Regions from separate parts of the Homo sapiens genome. Here region 2 is linked to region 1. Evidence: fine-mapped expression QTL. Tissue or cell type: subcutaneous fat. Region 1 holds a variant in brackets; the other region holds the start of a gene. All regions are shown on one strand. Distances are between the middles of the regions.

What was found. PIP is the estimated chance that this variant, and not a neighbour inherited with it, causes the effect.
Region 2: it holds the start of C8orf34-AS1, and the variant in region 1 is fine-mapped to the expression of C8orf34-AS1 in subcutaneous fat (TwinsUK, PIP 0.95).

Annotation. Positions count from the first base shown.
Region 1 is chr8:68,229,353-68,240,422 of GRCh38, reverse strand. PREX2 (phosphatidylinositol-3,4,5-trisphosphate dependent Rac exchange factor 2) reads right to left here. Exons shown (of 40, transcript NM_024870.4): 40 at 3,391-9,090. The coding sequence ends at 9,045. Among named protein-coding and RNA genes, the nearest start is that of C8orf34, 96 kb to the left of the region's middle. RefSeq lists a silencer at 822-1,022 and an enhancer at 10,473-11,052. The variant G/A (reference allele first, on the strand shown) is at 5,379.
Region 2 is chr8:68,325,783-68,336,852 of GRCh38, reverse strand. It overlaps C8orf34-AS1 (C8orf34 antisense RNA 1), which reads left to right and starts at 5,362. Exons shown (of 3, transcript NR_038877.1): 1 at 5,362-5,546. C8orf34 (chromosome 8 open reading frame 34) reads right to left here and starts at 5,898. Exons shown (of 14, transcript NM_052958.4): 1 at 5,514-5,898. The coding sequence starts at 5,840.

The DNA.
Region 1 (11,070 bases):
GAACTTGATAAAGATGATAGTCACACAACATTGTGATTTTATTAAATGCCACTTAATTGCATACTTTAAAATGGTTAATTTTATGTTATATGAATTTCATCTCATTAAAAGAGTGGAAAAGCTTATCCTAACTTTCCAATTGATGTTTTATATAATTCAAATAAGTTTTTCAGGAAATAATACACATTGGAGACTCAGAAAGGTGGGAGGGTGGGAGGGAAATGAGGGATGAAAAATTACTTAATGGGCACAAGGTATACTATTCAGGTGATCGTTACACTAAAAGCCCCAACTTCACCACTACTTCACTACTGCATGTAATAAAACTGCACAGTAGCCCCTAAAGCTATTTTAAAAAAAGTTTTTCAAAGATCTTGTCTAAAATCCTCTAATATACTTTGGCTGTGCTCCCATCCAAATCTCATCTTGAATTCCCACGTGTTGTGGGAGGGACCTGGTGGGAGGTAATCATGGGGGCAGGTCTTTCCTGTGCTGTTCTTGTGATAGTGAGTAAGTCTCATGAGATGTGATGGTTTTATAAGGAAGAGTTTCCCTGCACAAGCTCTCTCTTTGCCTGCCACCATCCACATAAGATGTGACTTGCTCCTCCTTGCCTTCCACCATGATTGTGAGGCCTCCCCAACCACGTGGAAGTGTAAGTCCTTTCATTAAACCTCTTTCTTTTGTAAATTGCCAAGTCTCAGATATGTCTTTATCAGCAGAGTAAAAACAAACTAATACAGCCATTTTTTATATCATCATACAGCCTATTTTTTTCCTCCGTATTCACTTACAGCTTCCAGATCCCTCATTGCTAAAGTGAGGTAACATCCTAATGTCTAATCTCTGGGGTAAACATTTTTAAGTGAATCAACATGTGGGCAGTTAAGAGCAGCAGCAGTTTTTAGCAGACCTAACATTTCCTGGCAATCAATTCCTGCATGTCCTTAGTCATCCTCTGACCATTATTTATATCCTCACTTGTCTTCATCCCTCTGAATTAAAGTGCCCTAAACAGAACACTCTCTTATATCATGTGATGATCACTGCCTTCTTTCTCGGAGCACACAGCTCTGGAATAATTTATTTTATCACTTTCTGGCAAAGAGTTCACAGGCCTCTTCTGAATGAGAGCAACATAGTGAGTCAAGGGCAGCAAGTCTAAGAAGCCTCTGACTTGATGAATATCTAGAGAGTCTTGTACTGAAACTTCCTCCCATATATTCACTTTGATTAATAGCAAATGGGTCCACATTTCGATCTGGAAATGTCCTATCTCAAGGAATCTTGAGGCTGACCCTAGGTGAGACAAATACCTTTCCAGACCTGGAGGTCCATATCATCAACTGGCTTCGAGAAATCAATGAGCTGTTTATACCACTGCATTCAGATCATCTTAAAATGCCCAACCAGTGTCAGGCTAGAAAACTCCACACTTAGCATATATCTTTTTAATACTTTTTGTGAAGAAAAATCAGTCTTTTACCTTCAAGTTGTCTAACTCATGACACCCTGGTCATGGCCATCAAGCCTTACAAATTTAGTCCAGAAATCATGGTAAATTGGAGCCAAGTTTTGACACAATAAAGTGTCTTCTAATCCAATATGTCATCATATTAGAAGGCTGAAGTGATTAAAAAGGAGAGGAAACATTTCCATTTTTCTATGGAATATGCTTTTTGTGGCCTCTAATACCCTGAACCTAGATGAATGGTGAGAGAATAAAACTTACAGTATCACAATCTGCTTTTAATTCTATTTCACTGTTACTGTTCATTTATGCAAGTATTTGTCACTTCTTCCTTTAAGCCCAAATGGCACCTCCATCAGGTAAATACCCCACCATCTGTCAATGTGCTTACCATTTTTTTCTTCATGTTATGCAGTTTCTAGCATAGTTTTCCCATATTGTGCTTTGATGAATATTTGTATACCAAGGAAATCATAACAAATCTTCCATAAAACATGTCCTATATTCTAGTGCATTTGGGAAACATTGCATACCATCATTGTCCTCCAAAGTCACCATGGTTATTAGTATATTAGCAGGTTGGAAAAGTCCTATAATAGAGAAACCTGCTTGATTCTGTGTTTCTTAAACTCATTTTCACCACAAAATACTTGTATGGGGTATGTGTGTGTGTGTGTATGTGTGTGTGTATCTCACTGAATAACAACTCTGGAACATAAATGTCTGGAATGCTGTTCTGAAATAAAGAAGCTACACCTGCTGATTCTATTTTCTCACTCATATTACTGTATTAAATCTGCAATCTCGAAGTATACCAGCAATCTCCAAAAAGTAAAACCAGTTATTGATTTTGGTTTCCTCCAATTATTATTTGATTTGACTTTTTTGAAGTAGCCTGCACAATCAACAACGTATACATTCTTCAAACTCCCCACTTGGATTTCATAATTTTTATCATTATTATCAACTATTTATCTCATTTTTTGAATGCTCATAATGTCCAGTGTCCTGACTTCTTAGCCTGGCATTCCAGATCCAGCTGTATTTTCTATCCATGTCTCTTTCTAAGCACATCCACTGATGTTTATCATCTGTCCGGACTGAGCCACTCACCATCCCACCAAAATATCTGGTGCTTTTTCATCTCAGTGCATGTATTCATCCTGTTTTTGTTAACAAGGTTGCTGTTCCCTTCTTCTGTTGCTTAATCTTACTCATCTTGAATGCTGATGACCTTTCCTGACCCAGGCTTCTCTCATCATTTTTGTAGTTTTTTTTTTTTAATCAGTTTTCCTCATTTAGACTGTAAATTTCATAAAGGTAATGACTATACATGTGTTCCTACATACTAAATATCCATCTTAGTTCAGTGCATGACAAGTAATCTGTAGATGTTCCATAAACAGATGTTGGATTCAATCTAAATTTTTTGAATTCTATAGTCCATGTTTCTCATTGCCTTCTCTCTCATTTTGCATTAGTGTCCACTGCTTTGTCTTGGTAGTTGCCATTTTGGATTGTGTACTGCATTAATCATCTTAAATATACCACCCTCTATGACCCTAGAGTTTGGGAATTATGTGCATTTTTATACCGTTAGCAACTAGGATAGTGGCTGATACATAATAAGTACTAAATAAACCTTGATAGGTTGGCTAGTTAATTCAGGGGACAGTGTAAGTCTCTTTTCTCTCGTGAAGTTTTCCTATGCTGTGGCCCATATTAAGCTTCTCTCTCATTCCTTCCTAGCAGTTACTGTCCCTCCAGCTCATATTTGTAGAATTTGTTTCATACGTGTGTCAAGTTTCTTCTATCGAGCTTGTGAATGCTTGAAGGGTGAAAATCTGTGTTTAACGGTTTTTGTCCTCCAAATAGGTAAGAACATAATAGGAATTAAGTTTAAATGGAAAGAAGCTGAATTGGTCATACTACATTTCACTTTATTATTATTAACATTTATCATACACGGTTACTATTCCAATCTTTCATGCAGACAAAAATAAACAATATAAAATACATAATGCACTTTGATAATTTTAACCATACATAAAATATGGAGTAATGGAAGCTATGTTACATGGATATTTTACAAAGGAAAAAAAGATGACTTTTATAATAACACATCCAGATGAAATTTATCATTAAATTTTGGATTTCATATGATGTTAAGTATGGATATATTCAAAACAATTACTATTTATAGAACCAATTTGATATTTTGTCATTTAAAATAATGAATACTATGTAAATGAGTACTTATAAAAATATTTTTAGGCAAAAAGCTCTGTTCTACTCATTTACTTGCCAGTTACAAAAATATATATTCATCTGAAACTCTAATAAATTTGCTTGAGGCATTAGATATTCAAATTCAAATGCATATTTTCTAAAGCGTCTTACCAATTTAGTGTTCTTGGCTACATACAGTATATTTGTATATATGATATTAGGTTTGTGTTACAAATAATGCCATTTTAAGCAAAAGACACAGATGATCAATAACACACAGAGACACCACGAAGGTTTTCAAATCAAACATGTCCACACATATACCAGCCCCAACAGCTGTGCCTTGCACAAAGTGAATTCTCAAAAACATTTTTCGGATGAATGCTTGATCAGATAGCATTTATCCTGTTATTCGCACCTAAAATTAACTCTCCAAAGCTATTTCTAGTAGAAATGCAATTTTAAAATTTAACAATTTTGTTCTAAATTAGTTATTTCTCAATGGCAGAGCCAGGTCAGTTGATTCCAGATTGAACAGCAAAGTAGTGTCAGTGATCAAAAGACCAGGTACATTTACACATGGTTGGACAGCTCTGATGCTTACAGTAAGACATTCATTCAATACATTGAACAACTCGATTTGTCGTACATTCATACAAAACAAAACAATCTTATTAATTTTTATAACATTATCACAAACACTAGTAAATATAATAATATATATAGGCATATACATACACATATATATCTCATTTAGTAGACTTAGTAGACTTCAGGTATCTCTTCTCAGCGAGAGGAGCAAGCTATCCTGAGTGAAGCAGGCCTTGTGTCTACATAACAATTGCTCAATGATGCACAGACCACACTTTAACAGTCTTCCATGTATGACCAGCAGACTGTTGGCAGTATGAATGCTGACATCACTGTTAATGCCAAGCCTTTGAAGCAGTAACATTTTTGTGAAACCAAAGACTAACTGTAATGACTAGTATGGAGTTGTAGCACCTAGGAAGATAATGGTCAATATTTGTTCAATGGAATATCCTGGGGCCATTTTTGGTACAGACCCCTCTTGTAATTTTCCCCCACCTGTTCTGCTTCATGCAGGGTGAAACTTTGCTGAGGCTCATCACTAAAAGTTCAAACATTCGATAGAAGACAGATTATTTTTCTCAATCAAAATTCAGATCACTTTAAGTCATTTCAAAGCTTGGCCCTAGTACTTAAGCAGGACAACCGACAATTCATTTAGCAAATTGGTTAGTATATATATGTGTTAATGAAATTACTGCTATGAGAGAGTTCTTAAGTGATAATTTAGTAAGATAATTCACATAACAATGTCTTTAAAAATTAAACATAGTTTCCAAAAATTCACAAGCAATTTAGTCAAATATTAAAGGTTAGTTTCAATACCACTAGTGCATAAAGTCTAAAAACGACCTTTAAAGTAAAATGTAAAGTAAAAGTGACCTTAAAGTAAGACTATTCATTTTAAATTTCAATATTATGGCTTTTCAGAAGTATAAGTGAATAACTGCTCTGCATTAAATCATGCTACACAGGAAAAGATCTACTTCAACTAACAAAATAATACTTCAGTATTTTAAATGCAAAGGTATTAGTTTCAAAACACAGAGTCATTTACTCTCAATTGAACACTTCCAAATCAATAAAT[G/A]CTAATTTTGTCTATAAAATGTACAAGCCCAAAGGACTGAAAATAGTGTGTTTTGTTAAATTAATTAACATGACCCTTAGGCTTTGTTTACCCATTCATTTTTTTGGCTCTCAAAGTTAGTATCAAGGTCAATTTCATTTCATTCTGAATGTAATGATCCCAAAATTTAAATTAATAGACTCAGAACCAATGTCATTTCAACGTCATATATATTATAGTATCATAAAAAGTTTACCTAATTTTAAATTGATTTAAAATTTGCTGCAAGAAGAGTGGCCAATGAATGCACAATGAACCCAAGCCACCAGAAGAATGTGTTTTAAAGAGACAGAAAACAGTATGAGACTTCAGATTTGCGAACTGATAAAATAAAGCTTATACTATAAATTCAATATTATATATCCAATATAAGTAAAACTAGCACAGAAATTATCTCCCCATTTTCTCTCTTTAAATAGGAATGGAAATACATGTAAAATTCTAATCTTCTCAAATTTTTCATACTTTAATATCACATTAAATTTTGTAATATTTGGAATTAATATTAGAAAAAATTATAGGAGATAATAGAATGCTTAAAAAGTATTGACTATGAATTTTTAGTTCACAATTATTTTTGAGTCAGGCTCTAAGTTAAAATCCAAACTTTCTATGCATGACCTTCCCTTTTAGGTTGGGGGGCGGTGGGAGTTGTCCATGCTCAGAACCTGGAAGAAGTTAGCAGGTTTTAGCAGTATTTGAAGGTGCACTGGTTATAGAGGAGCATGTAGCATTAAGGTAAACACATCCTAAAACCTCAAGGCCATTTAATGCCCAATGTCACATGGAGGTACATATGGCATTGAAAAAATTGTCATTATTCATTCATCCATTAGGTATGTTTTTTACTCTTACCACTGTGTTGGAATTATAATAAAGTTGTATGAGATGTACTATCTAAAACTGTTATTTTTGATGAGGAGGAACATGATACAAAATAGTTTTTCAGATTGCAACACTGTTGAGTTACCTCAAAATGTGCATCCAGAGTTGTAAAATGTCCAGGAAACACTATAATTTTCATATAATTAAAGCATTTACATATTTCCATTCACCGTTTTTTAATACAAGATGTATAATTTAATGACAACACATGCCGCATAACTCCAAATTTACTTACAAATCATCGTAATATTACAATAGTTCTTATATTGATAAGGAAAAGTAGCATAATGCATTAAGAAGGCAGACTTCCTGGGTTCAAATTTTGGTTCTACCCCTTGTCAATCATGTGACTTTGTGCAAGTCACTGGGTTATTCTTTGCTTTGGTTCCTCAACTCTAAAAATGGGCGCGATAAAAAGAGTACCATGTCACGTCATTATTATGAGGATTAAGTGAAGCAATAACAACAGAATACAGGCAAAGCATTTGGAGGTATTACTGGGCATGTAGTAATCCCTTAATAAGTGTTAGCTACAATTTTTATTACGATCAGAAGTTAGAGTGACTGATGTTAATATAAACCATTACTAATTTTTGAGCATTTAGTAAGTACCAAGCATGATAGACGACACACTTATGTTTAACCCTAAAAATAATATGAAGCACATTCTATTATGAAGAAAGTAGATCCTTAAAAATATAAAATATGTTAGCTTATAAATACCACAATATAGCTGATAATTTGCCCCATGAAATATGGCAAAGTACAACTGAAATCATTTTAATGACCCTTGCATGCCTCTAATGAGGATTACTGCTTCCAGGATGGTGATGAGAAAACAGTCATGACAATATGAAAGGACTTGCTAGCTAATCAGCTGTGTTCCTTTATTAGTCCTACAAATGTTAAATCCTTGAAGGTTATTTTTGTAAAGATATCTTTATTAAATTCAAAATGTTCAACTTTTTCTTGAAAACTCTGATGTTAGGTTCCTTGTTTTTCATTGTATATGGACTTCTCACAAAAGTCTCTAGAGCTTCTGTGCCAAATAACAATTATTATTACCTTACCTAGTAGTATACACATATTGCCTACACATGTAACATGGTATTTTTGTTATTCAATACATAATGGTTAATGATAAAGGTTTTAATAATAGTTTGAAAACCATGATCAAATTTCATAAATTAAAATTTAATAATGGGCCGGGAGCAGCGGCTCACGCCTGTAATCCTAGCACTTTGGGAGGCTGAGGTGGGTGGATCACTTGATGTCAGGAGTTCAAGACCAGCCTGGCCAACATGGTGAAAACACGTCTCTACTAAAAATACAAAAATTAGCTGAGCATGGTGGTGCACACCTGTAGTCCCAGCTCCTGGGAGGCTGAGGCAAGAGAATGGCTTGAACCCAGGAGGTGGAGGTTGCAGTGAGCCAAGATTGCACCACCGCACTCCAGTCTGGGTAACAGAGTGAGACTCAGTTTCAAAAAATAAAAAAAAAATTAATAATAGTTTGCACATAATTTAGATATGAAAAGCATTTCACATACTAAATTAGTGTAAACCCATATAATTATCACAATCATGAGTGTTTTGTTTGAAAATTATGGATTTAAAATAAATATTACTGTATTTACTATGCTAAAAACAATGTTATTGCATCAATGTAGAAATGATAAACATTACATATACTTTAGAATAAGGATAGAATACACCTTGTGCATCCATAAATTACAAGTCCCCTAATGGTCCTTTTAAAGTACAAATAAAGCCTTATTTTCATATCTTATACATATATCTTAACAGAAAAATTCTCATGATGGTGTATTCTTTGAAGAGTCTGACCTCTCATATGAGAGCCTTCATAAAATTAAGAGTTTTAGGTATCTAACTTAAAGGTTTAGTTTTAAAATAGGCTTACAGTCCCCTTCTTCATCCTGGTTCCCCTCCCTGATCCCCAGGGCACTTCCCTGATCCCCAGGGCCATTATGGCACAGCACCCAGTATTCATGGCCCAAGGAAGCCATGCCCATTGCAGACACCAAAAATAGCATTGATTTGCTAGAGCTGTCCACAAGAATAAAGGATGCCCAAAGGCAGCTAGAAGAAAGTGAGTCCTGCTGGAGGCCTTAGTCAGCTTTCTTCTCCTCTAATAAGAAATAAGCCCTTAGGAGAAAGAGTAAAGCATGCTTTTCCACCTTTTACACATTAATGACTTTCTCTCTTGCAAATGGGGGACTGAAAATGTATAGCACACAGTCTATATTGTCCTTAACATTTCTCATGATGATTTGCAAGATGTCGCCAGGTTTCTTCAATAATGGCCTTCTTCAAGAGGAACTCTCCATTATTACATGTGTCCACTTGGGAAAGATGAAAACAAGCATAATAAAACCATTTTAATGAATGGGAGAGGAGGCATGGTGGTTAATTTTTAAATCTCTAATATTTTTTTCTTTATGTCCCAGGGATGGATTTTACTCTAAAAGTGAATACTTAATGTCAATACAGAGAGACATCAGTTCGTGAAGCTGAACTGTCTGATTGAACTTCTATCCATTTCCAGCATAAATATCAAAGTATAAACTGATCACTACTTGTTTGCAATGGGAAGAAAGATTTACAGAAAAAAAAAAAAAAAAAAGCATTGATGTATCTTCAGTGGAGAATGTTTAGCCAGCATGTAGTTTGTCTAGTCCAGCATTCAGGAGCTTCTGCCTGCCTGGTTTCTTGGGAGTTCTTTTCATTCTTCTCCAGCTGGGGGAGGTGGCTCGCACAGCTTGTACAGCCTAGAAAAGGCATGGTAAAGTTTGACAGTGACTTAGTGTATTACCATTACATGAGGTGTCTTTATTGGTAGAACAAATACATTGATGATAATTTCTTGTTTCGTGAGTCATGATCGGATTGTCTATTTCACTAAAAATAACATATGAATTGGCAAACTCCAAAAATTAGATTCTATGATTTAGAAAACACCAGTGCCCCTCTGCATAGCTTGATGGCTGTGGATGAAGCAATCCTGAATTTTTTAAACCTGCTGCTTTTTCTCCAGTGCCAACCGCCCAGGCTGTTCACCACACTTGTGGTAAAACCTACTCTCTGGATTCCAGGAAATGATATTATTACGATAATTACCATCATGTCTATCATGATTATTTTGTAGCAAGATGGCACCTATCTCATAGGGGTCTACTGATTTTCTGACTTGTTTTAGAAATGTGCTTCATTTTGTACTATCCCCAGAGTGCAGGCAGTTGGCTGTGGATAGGCTGACATGGCAAGATTCCTGAGACCTAAATCTCAAAGGCACAATTGGCTAGAGTTTCCTAAGGATAAATTACCCAGCTCTGCCCAGGGCCCACTCACCCGACTGTGGGCTCTCCAAGTGGGTCAAGGATCCACTTAAACCATGGAGATGCCTGGAAATGCTTCCCATTGCAGCCCAGGTCTAGTTGTTCAAGACTATACAGCATTCAAGGAAAACTCAGGGGGTTTAACTACAGTCACACAAGTTCTGGTGCTCCACATTCTCCTCAGTGGTTAAATGATAACAGCAGAACCAAAGTAAAAGGGAACATAATAGCTGCTTGATAGCCCTAGTGATCTCAAGGCCATATGCATTACTTACAGCATATCCTGAGAGATTGATTGGCTGAACTAAAATGCTGGATTGGACTATGCCTGTTCTCTAAACAGCACCCATGGCCACACTGGTCCCACTGCAGAGCTTGGACTAATGATGTCAAAATATAAGCTGCAGATTTCCACATGGCATCTTTTCATAAAAGCACTACAACCCAGGACTAGCTGTGGTGATTCAATCCCTTTTACCGACTAAATTGAAAACAGCTTCAATGTTGTTGATCAATTTAGCAAATTATAAATTTCCTCTCCCTTTGACATTTAATCCCATGCTAATTATAGATCAAAGGAGAAGAATGAGCAAGATTTAATATTGAGTTATAACTCCTGGTTAACAAAATGAGCTTTCCTAGTATGAGAACACGTAGAAGAAGCTATTGACTTTGGAGGTTTGCAAAACGTATTTCAAGTCCGGAAGGTGGTTGATGCACTACATGTTATCTCCATGCAAGAGGCGAATACTGAAATAAAGACATCTCACATCAGAAGAAGCTTATTTCATCCTTCCCAGAGAAAAGAATACATTCAATTGACCCGATGTACTTCAAAGGTTCTTTTGCAGCTGAAGAATATGGTGTTACTTCAAATTGCATTCCCAGGGCTGGGATAATGAAAGAATAAGGAGGCTCTTTTTCTTCTTAATTTCCTTCCTCTTATTTCCCTGACAGTGCTGCCTAATGATTGAAAAGGCACAATGGGCTTAGTCACGTAGGACAGGAATGGGAAGATGGGTGGCGAATGTCCTGCCCCATGAGATCTGGGCTGAGCCATCACATTCCATTACCTTGCTCAGCACGTTTCCACATAATGTAACTAATAGCACTGGGTAGACGAGTCTTTGAAATGTCTGCCTTGCAAATTGAAGAAAAGGCTACTCCCTGTGATCACCTAATGAAATAGTAGCTCTGGGTATTGTGGAACTGGGCAGATTCAGCTTCTGTGAGGCTTCTTGGAAGTGACTCAGGGTTATTTGAGTTCAAACACATTTGTAATGGAAATTGCAGAGCTTTGGGAATTCAGAACAGGCAGATGAAATTTCTAAGTGAAATGTAATAGATAAGAGTTGGACTCTCATCCTGCACTGAAGCATTTATTTTTTGGCAGATAAATTGTTGGGCAGAGTG
Region 2 (11,070 bases), 96 kb before region 1:
TTGATACATACCTACTATTCTTTGAGCTCTTCCTTACTTTTTGACATATGATACTCCAAACCTTGCTTAGCCCCAAACCTGGAATCAACCATTTCTTCAAGGACACCTGGTTCTACTTAATGGAGAATGGTATTTAGAAACCAAAATGTGGATGCTAGGTGTGCTCATTGCTACCAGGATGTTGTTATTCCCAGGCCCTTCCAGTAGACAGAGTTGGGAAGTAAATGTAGGTATATGCACTTAAGTATATGTAAATACATACAAATCTATATTTGTTTCTATTACATCTATACCTGTTTCTATTATTGAAAGTCATGAGATCACACCAACACCTCCAATTTCAATCCAACACAACAAGGTTCATTCTAGCTTTCCCTATACTATCTCTGTGACTCCTATGTCCATCAGTAAGAAGGCTGACTTGAATATATATTTTTTCAATATATTTAATTATTTTCTGAATACCCTGCCCCCACCTTGTACGTAACAAATCTTCTGACCCTGCCAGGCCACTGCCCACTCAGCCCCTTTCTTTAATTGTGCTCTGATACTTTCCAGGTGAACTCCCAACTTAGCTCTCCTTGTCATATGGGTCTTAGCTGTAGTCTTAGCTGTTCTCTTTGTATGGTTCATGGCTTCTTAATTGAATTATGAAAAAAAAAAGGGAGGAAAGCCTATGTTATTTTTGTAGTCTCATATTTCCATTGATCACATTCTCTTAAGAGAGACCCACAAATATTAAAATACTATTTTTTTTCTTTTTTTTGTAATGGGGTCTCCCTCTGTTGCCCAGGCTGGAGTGCAATGGCATAATCTTGGCTCACTGCAACCTCCACTTCCTGGGTTCAAGCAATTCTCCTGCCTCAGCCTCCCGAGGAGCTGGGATTACAGGTGTGCATCACCATGCCTGGTTAATTTTTGAATTTTTAGTAGAGATGTGGTTTCACTGTGTTGGCCAGGCTGGTCTTTGGTCTCAAACTCCTGACCTCAAGTGATCCAGCTGCCTCAGCCTCCCAATGTGCTGGGACTACAGGCATGAACCACCATGCCTGCCCAAAATATTATTTCTTTTTTCAAATTTATTGATGCCATATTGGTATATGTACATATTACTATTTCTAAGGTTATATAGTGATTTATTGAATTGAATTTTGGGTCACTTTATTAAGCTATTTAAAAGCTGCATGAAAATAAAATACATTAAGGCAGAAATGAAAAATAAATGGGCTGGTAATAGAAACATGTTAATTAAAGTAACATTTTAAAAAACTGTTTTGAAGTAAGTCAATGACAACACTTAACTTGGACTCTAGGCAAAATTTTATAAAATGGAACTGCTTTGTCTTCTGCCTCCTCTAAATGCTCTGAGATTATAAAGATTAATGCAAATTTTGATATAGGAAAAGTCTTCATAACTTTGAGCACTGGGGAAGATCACCTGACAATCATTACTCCAAAAAATATATTTACAATATTTAAGTTGAACATATTATAACTACCAAGCTTATATTTTATTACTTCTCTAATAAAAGCATTTTCCTAATCATTTTTATTAAAATGACACTTTTACCTTTATTAACGACAAATTATTTTTAAACATTAAAATATCTTTCTGGAGGGGTATTTTACCTCTGGCCATAAGTGAGTAACTAGTATCCTTCTTATCCCCAAACAACTGCCCTAAACAATCATAAGCCTGCCTAAATTAGACAAAAATATTTCTTTTCATGTATTAAATAACAGGTAGCCCACGGCTGTGATCCTTATGAGAGGGGGAACAACGAAAGGAGATCTCCGCAGACACTACAGCTCTCTGATAAACGCAAGGAGCATTTTTTAGATATGATCAGGGAGGTCAATAAAGTGAAATAATGGGCTTGCTGAGGGTTGGCAGCAAATTGGAGTTCAGGGTTGCATACATGGCTGGAAGAAGTGCCGTGGGGTACCAGAGAAGAGCAAGCTGGGCAACAGCAAAATATATAAGTGATGCAGGCTTTGATCATAAGTTTGATAAGTCCATTTTATAACATATATGCCAAATCAGTTAATGCAAATTTACACCATGTGAGTAGAAGCACTTTGAGTGGAACAGAGAAGGTGATAGTGATTCCATTCTATTTGGAGTGGGTCATACCATACTTAGAGAAATGTAGTGACTTTTGTTTGCCACATCTTCAGTACACAAATTTAAAAATTCCATGGTGATTTTATGAAGATCCCCACTATTTGGCTTCTTAGTAACTTAAGATTTCACACTCTTGTGAGTGTGATCAGGCCTGAACCAAGATATATAACTGCCCTGAGCACTCTTCCAATCAATAATGGGAGAAACTCAAAAGTTTCTATTTCTTTATATAAAATGTGTGTGTACACAAACATACATGGAATATATATATTCCACTATATATAATATTTATATATATTACAAATATTTATCTTGTAAGATGTAAACCATTACATCTTACAAAAATTAGAAAGTTTGTGAAATGTATTTTTCATCTTACACCTTCATATTATCTAATCAGAATATCATTGTCCAGAATTCTAATGCAATGATTTTTAGGCATAGTTTTGTAATGCTCCAAAACATCTTCAATGAAATTTAAAAGTAGTACAAATTTATTCACCTGAGTCAGCTGGAAACAAAATTAATTTCAATTTAAAATAAATTTTGAAACACCATACTGCATGTAACACTTTAATAAGCATCTCAAATCATAAAATATTAGCAATAAACTAAGTAAGAAATAAACTAAGTGAACAAACTAGGTAAATAAGCCCTACAGGTAAAAAAGAGGATCAAGTATTCTCAATATCAGTGAATAGGTTACTTTTTGCTATTGTTTTAAAAAACATTCATAGATTATCTTTAAAGTATCTCATACCAATTAAGTTTTCTTAAAACATTCCTAACTTAAACTATCCACAAGGGGGACATATTATCAGATACCGCATATTTTCCAAACTGAAAGAAGCCTGTGTCAGCTACACTGACTCAACACAACAAAGCATAGATGACAAGACATGAAGCGGCCAATTTCAATTTGTGAGTGGTAAAAGGAGATTTTAGCTCAGTTTCTCAAAATGTGGCCCAGAAATTAAAATTGTAGCAAACATTTGTGCTGCTTCTAAATATGTTCAGATTGCTGGGCACCTCCTCTGACCCAAATCAATTCCTGTGAAAACTATTGAGTAAGGTCCTAGAAGAGAATGGACGGTCTCTAGGTCAACAATGTCCATTTCACAGGTGGCACTGGTTTTCTAACATGAAACAAGTAGGCTACACGCTAGTAAAATCTTCCAATTTTGTGAAATACGTATAATTGTACTCTCAAAGTCAAGCTCTATCATGATCAAAATTGTTGCATAAGGAACTGTGTTACATCCAGCTTTTATTAAAAGAGAATTTATTATCCATTTTTCTCCCTTCAATTATTTAAAGTGGACATCAAACCTTAAAAAATGCACTACTCATCACTGCAATCTAAGCTAATGCCAGTGTATGTCATATGTATTCAATAAAATACGAAGCATGGTGGTGCTTGTTTTTTGGTGAGGGGACCTAAAGCTTTTATGAGACACGTTGCTATCACTTAAAATTCTTCAGCGCATAACTTGCTGGTGAGCATCAAAAGGTGGGGGTTAGGGGGCACTTCATAAATATCCATTTGAGTTTATTTTCTAATTCTGCAGAAAGTTTACATATATTCCTAATTTTATTATTATTAAAATCTTGGGGATTTTAAGATAACAAATTAAAACAGTATTTATTAAAAACAATTCATTTATTCTCCCAGGCTAATTGTACTTTATACTCCAGGAGAGTAGAGAGAAAACACACACTCTAAATGTATGTATTTTATGATTCTTTCGATGCAATTAATACACTGCGTTGCAGAAGGTTTTAGGCTTCTGCCTTTAAAAAAATTATATAGGATTATGTATAATCAATAATCATTAAACTAAAGGCAAAGAAAAGAAATCTGGTAGTTCCATCAATTTTATTTCGCTCTTGCATGGATTGCCTTTGTTAACATTTTTGGCAGAAAAAAGAATCAAAGCAATTGTAGGACTCTGCACCCCACAATGCGAGCTTCAATTGAAACAATGGTCTTATCGTCTAAGACAGATCAACGTTAAAGTTGGGCAAAAAAACTTAGGAGATCTTGCAAATCTTGTTATGTGAAACCCGTCCTCCCAAAAGACCTATTGGACCACACCTTTGTCCTCCGCGCCCTTTTTTTGCAGGGTCATTAACTCGCATTATTTTTTTGTTCTCCACAGTTCTCACTTGCTTCTCTTCAGTCTTTGCTAGGTTTTCCGCGATCTCCAGTGCAGCCCCTTCCACTTGCCGCGATTCTGCCTCTCTCAGACACTGACACGTAACCTCCTCCCCATACCAAGCCCTCACCCCAAACCAAGCTGTTAAGAACAGCTACAACTGCTTCTGGGAGACGTGGGGGGCGGGGGCAAGGCGGGGGCAAGGCGGGGGCAAGGCGGGAGCACCTCGACCCTCCCGCGAACTCTCGCCGCCGGTCAGTGCCCCCTGAACTGGATGGGACCAAGGGAGTCCCTCCGCAAGGGCCTCCACTTCTGACTACGGTCCGCACGCCCCACCCCTGCTCAGCACCCTGGCAACCCGCGGGACGCTTTGCTGGTGCCAGGCTTCAATCTCTTGTTCTCATTTTCTCGTGTCCTCGCGCTCTTCCTTCTACTGTATTTTTGTCTTAAATTCTTTAATGGCGAGAGAGAGAAAAAAAAACAAAACCAGCTCAGAGCTATAGTCTTCTTCCACAAATACGTGTGTGCTTTTCAGAACCTTTCTCCGTCCCTTTCTCCTGCTAACACATGTGGGGTCTGCAGTGCAAAGGACTCTCCTTTCGTCCAGTGACCAAATGGCAGTCTCTCAGTTTGCCAATTTCATTCATCACGCCCGCACCGACTGAAGCCTACTCCTCACCAGTTCAGCTGTCTTCCAGTTAATTGTATTAACTGCTAAGCACCTCCTCCACCTTTTCGGGTTCTATTACCGCCCTCATTAAAAAAAAAAAAAAAAAAAAAAAAAAAAAGAAGGAAAGAAAAGAAAAGAAAAAAGAAAATCCAACACGAACACTCAAGATAGCGTGAATTCAAAAAAGAAAGTGTGCGTGTGCAACACAGTCTGAGTGTGTGCATCCGTATGCGTCGCCTGCCTCAGCCTGCCCGGGTCCTGAACATGTAGCTGAGAGGTGCAGGACAGTCAGAGGGCCAAAACTTCCCCTGCCAGGCTGAGGCTGGGCCCTCCCGAGCTCACCTGTCCGCGTTCAGGTAACTGGCTAAGTGCCCGCCCGGCCGCGTTCCAGGACACCTGGCCGGGACAGAGCGAATGCCAGTGAATCCCAGGGCGCCCTCTCCCGCGCGTTGGTTCTCTAGCCCTCCTTCCCTGGGAGGGGTGGGATTGGGAGTGTTCTGTTTTCATTACTGCACCCCTTCCCCTAAAGACAACGGGACTGCCCTCCTCCACAGCGCCTTACCTCAAACAGGGGACCGATCTTGTTCTTCTCCAGGTAAGCCTGGATCCGGGTTTGCGGATGAGACGCCATGGGGAACAGATGGGACCGCGAAGAGAGTGCAGGGAGAACGCGCGGCTGTGCGCCTCCGCTGGGGACAACCCTCCTTTTACCCGGACTGGGGCCGGGACAGGAGCTCCGGAGCCTCGGCTGCCCTGCGTGGCTGGCTCGGCCCCGGCCGCGGGCGTGGGTGGCAGCCCGGGGAGCCACGCGCGCGTGGGGCGCTGAGAGCCGGAAGCCTGGGCGCAGCGCCGCCAACTCAGACAACTCCGAGGCGAGGGGAGAACTCATTCATCGCGTTCTCCGCCTCGCGCCCACCCTCGCCGCTCTCCGCAGCGCCCGGCGCAGTGGGGAAATTCGAGGCAGAGGTTCCTTTCTCCTCTGGGCGGCAGCAGCAGGAATCAGGGGGCGGGAGGCGAGCTGTGTCGAGGGGCGCACGCGGGCGGACAGGGGCCGCGGGGCTCGAACTCGCCACCGGTGTGTGTGCGTGCGTGCGTGTGTGTGTGTGTCCGTGCGCGCGCGACTGTGTGTACCTCCTTTCCCCGGTGACGGAACAAACAGCCCGGGCTGCTCCCCGAGGCTGCTCGCCCTACCAGCCGCTCCCTAGCGACAGCGCCGCTTAAAAAGCCAATGGTGAAGGTGCTTCTTTCAAAGTGCACATAAATCTGGTGCTTGTTGGCTACTCCTTGGCAGCTACAAATGCAGTTCGAAAGGGGATCGTCCCCACCGCCCCTTCTGAGCCTCTCCTCAGCACCTTCTGCCCTGCCTACTCTAGCGCAGGGGTTGAGAAGGGCAGAGTTTTGAGAAGGTGCGTGGGTTTAAGGGTTTGCCGCGAAAAAGAAGTTGCCTTCCTTTTCAAAATCTGGTTTGGCCTGGAGCAAGTCGACGGGTGAACGCAGCCTGAGAACCCAGCTGAAAACTCTCAAAGTGCAGGAGCTCAAAGGCTGGAACCAGCCTTTCAGCATTTGACAGGGAGAAGAGAAATGAGCGAGCCAGCCCTCCCCTCCAAAGTTGGCCTTCCTAATCCACGCCTTGAGTCATGTCTGTATACCTATAACTGCATCTCAGACACCACACTATCCCACTTCATAATGTTTCCTCTAGATACTGCGTGAGCTGCTCAAATTTAGCCAATACCTTTCTTATTATGCAGGGATTTCCGAGTCGAAGGTTTGCAGATAGCCCAGGCTTCCTCACAGAGCTCTCTTTCTTGTGAAATACAATACTAAGGTCCCAATGACAATTTCCCTGGCTCCTAACCATGATGTGCTGCCAAAATTAGATTTATTTCTAATAAATATAAATTTTCAGAATGATGGAAACAGTTTTCCTAAAAGCTGACTGCAGCAGTATATATTTTTTTCTTTCTTTCTTCACTGTGTTCTGGATTTCTGTTACTCATAGTTTCTTTATTGGTGTTCATGTTTTCCTTCTGTATTTTAAATATGTGGAAACATGTAATAGATAAGTGTGGAATATCCCAGGAACTATTATTAATTTCATGCATTAAGACATAAGAAATCTGCTAGAATAGCTAGGAGCTTAACCATCCCTGATAACCTGAAATGGACTTGATCCAGAGTGGAAAGATGTCCACATTAATACTTTTACAATCGGACTCATATGATCTGCCTAGGGAGGGTTAAGTTAAATAGCAGTGAGGTGTCCAGGGTTGCCTCGTGCTTTCCATTTTGGTTCGAAGGTATATTTACTTATGTATTTTTTAATGTGTCCAGGAGAAATTAAATACACAGAGTGAATACCAACATTTCTATTTGCTAAAAGGTATAGCGTAGAGCCATAAGGAAGGCCATCTATGACCCAGCTAAAAAGCCTACTATTTTTGATACCACATAAGGTACCAAGATGGTACGCTTCCTGAAATCAAGAGTCTTTCTCTTTTAAGAGGCATCAGGAGGATGCTTCTTTAAATGAAATAAAGACACTTATTAAGTCTTCACCATGCTCAGACTATTGCACTTAGGGCTTTGAATAGAAGAGACAAAGCTTCAGCTGGCAAAATGTGTATGTTTTAAAGAGAGAATGAAGCCAAGTACAAAGGCTCACGTCTGTAATCCCAATTATGTGGAAGGATCACTTGAGGCCAGCAGTTCAAGACTGGGCAACATAAAAAGACCCCATTTCTAAAACAAATTGTTTTTTTTAATTAGCTGGGCATAGTGGTGCACACTTATAGTTCCAGCTACTGGGAAAACTGAGACAGCAGGACCCTTGAGCTGCAGTTTGAGGCTGCAGTGAACTATGAGTGTGCCACTGCATCTAGGCTGGGCCATACAACAAGACTCAGTCAAAAGAAAGAAAGGAAGAAAGAGAGCAAGAGACAAAGAAAGAAGAGCAACATGAGGATATGCATACCCATTTATGTATGTTAAAACTCTGAGCATCCCAAAATTGCACATTTAAAATTCAGGGAGTATTTTCAAAGCTTTTCAAGGCCAACATTAAATATCACCTCCTTCATAAAGCACTTCTTGGTTCTTTCTATTTATCCCTAAACATGGCTTCATTACTACAATAAACATTTATTGCATAGCTTCTCAGTGACAGACATTATGTTAAGACTGGGAATTCAAAGGTGAAAGGCTTTGTCTTTGTCCTCAGTTGCTTCGTCTTGTTGAGGCAATCGGCATATATATAAATAATGGCATCAGATGCTGGGCTTGGTGGCTCACACCTGTAACCCCAGCACTTTGGTAGACCAAGACAGAAGGATCACTTGAGCCCAGTAATTTGAGACCAGCCCGGGCAGGATAGCGAGACTTTGTCTCTATTAACAATAAAATAGTAGTCTCAGCTACTCATGAGGCTGAGGTAGGAGGATCTGTTGAGCCCAGGAGTTTGAGGTTGCAGTAATTGCACCACTGCACTCCAGCCTAAACAAAGCAAGATTCTATTTCTTTTTTAAAAAAGATAGCATGTACAGAGGCACAGAGACACCCAACAGGCTGGTAGTTAAAGATATGTAAAGTATATGTGGAGGAGTATTATTTTCATGTGAGGTTAAAAATGTAAGCAGAGTTCAGCTCATTGAAAGTCCTAAATGCCTTGTTAAGAACAATAGACTTACATCTTGTGGATAATGAGAAGTGACTTGTTAGGCTACAGAATCTGTAACAAATCATGGGGTTATTGTTAGGACTTAAGATATAGGGTTAACGGGGATGGGATGGATTCCAGACATAGTAAAGGACTAATGTTGATTAACTAAATGAAGGATGAAGTTAGAGGAGGAAATCAAAGATGACACTCTGATATCTGACATGAAGCTAAGAGATGACAAATTATTTACCCAAGTCACCCAATGTATCATTGGTAGGGCAAGGTTTTAGTTCAGGTTTTTCTAACTCTAAAGCTGAAGCTATTTCTGCTCTCTACCCTGTAACCTGGAAACTAGTCAAAAATTGAGTTTATAGATATTAGCACCCCTTTGTGGGAACAGCTATGTCTCATGACTTGGCACATAGTAGATACTCCAGAAATAGCAATTAAATGAATGAATTGAATTTTAGAATATCAATTCAGTCCAGCTATGTTCTTTCAGTCTAAACTTTGCCTCTGACTCATGGCATTTATACTCTGTTTTGTTTCCTTTAGTCAATTGCATGCATATTTTGGTCTCTCTTTTAAACTGCAAACTCTCTAAAATCATGAACTGTATCTTAATAATTTTCTTTTACTTTACAGTGTGTAACACAGTATATTTTCGCATAGTAGGTTCTTCATAAAATATCTTTAATTAAGGTACTATTACTATAAGTTTTAAGATTTGTATTAGGTAGTCCCTTTAAAATTGGCTGAAAGGTAACCATTGTCTTGGATTGAATTTATCAACTTTTTCTGCACATATGCCATGGTACCTTTAGGATCCTTTCGCCGTTTTTGGGTTGGATACAGCATGAAAAGACCATTTTCGGTGAGACTGTTTTGACCTCATTGTGTTATAGAAGTGCCTGTCAGCATAATTTACAGATGTACAGAATCCAATTTATAGAATTCACTAAAGCCATTGTCCAACTCCATTTGTAAGACACCTTGCACAGTTCCTTACACAAATAGGTTTCGGAGAGATGAGGGAACAGTGGTGAAGTCCAGTTGACCCAATTAGGAAGTATTAGCAATGTAATCCATTGAAATTAATTAAATGTTGAAGTCAGAGAGCAGAGATGTTCTATATGGATTTCTTGAATTTAGACTTCTATCCCTGAAGCATACTTATCCTCTTTCTGTTTTGGTTTCACCTTGCCACTTTGTAACAAAAAGGGAAAAATATCTTTCCAAGGAACCCAGCACATATGAATAATCTGGCCATAAAAGGGAGGTGCACATAGAGAGTTTTCTTCATTTTTGCCCGAAATGCCTCCCACAACTAATGCAAATGAGCTCACATACAGCATTTACTATGTACTAGGTATTGATAACAGCACTTTATACACTCCCTCAACTCATTTAATTCTCAAAACAACATCATGAAGTAGGTACTACTATTATTCCCATTTTTTTAGATGAGGAAACTGAGACACTTACCAGGTAAGTAACTTGCCCAAGGTCATAGCTAGTAAGTAGCAGAGTATCTTGAACCCCAGTGATGTATTAAACCCCCACTGTCAAGGTTGCAAGAGTACCAATTCAAGTACAAATCAGTCTGATTCCCTTTGCTTTGGATTAGTTCTGACCAAGCTGTGTTTTGATGACTAGTTTGACTTCCCCAGTGTGTGGGTATGGGAAGGGAAGTAGTATGGGTAGCAGATAACGGGGTAACTTTCTGGCTCCATACTAAATGAATATGTTGTCTCTTGTGAGTTTGAATAATAGCTAATCAACCACGTTGGAACTGATTTTTTTTTTCTTTTTTGAGATAGGGTCTCACTCTGTCCCCCAGGCTGGAGTGCAGTGGCACGATTATAGTTCACTGCAGCCTCGACATCCCAGGCTCTTGCAATCCTCCCACCTCAGCCTCCTGAGTAGCTGGGACTATAGGTGCATATCACCAAACCCAGCTAATTTTTGTATTTTTTGTAGATACAGGATTTCACCATATTGCCCAGGCTGGTCTCGAACCCCTGGCCTCAACTGATTGTCCTGCCTAGGCCTCCCAAAGTGCTAGGATTACAGGCATGAGGCTCTGAGCCTTGCCCTGGTTCTAACTGTGTGGAAAATATCAACTTACTGGATCTACTAAATTGACAACTCAAATGATGGTGCCAGCTTGTGAAATCCTGCCATTCAGCCTTCTGAAATTACATTTCTATCTCTTTAATTTCTGCCTTTACTCATTAGGTTTTAATATTTATTTTTTAATTTTTTAATATGTGGACTGTATATAAGCAATCTCCATCTAAAAGACTTTATGTAAATGCATTTTATAACATGTTAATTTTTGTTGTTATGAATCATTTAAAGGAAATCTATAGATATCAGACTATGTAGATACCCTTGATGTTAATTGCCCATAGTCTGTTAAACCTGATATGCTTTTTGCTTATAATTTCCGAGAGCGTAT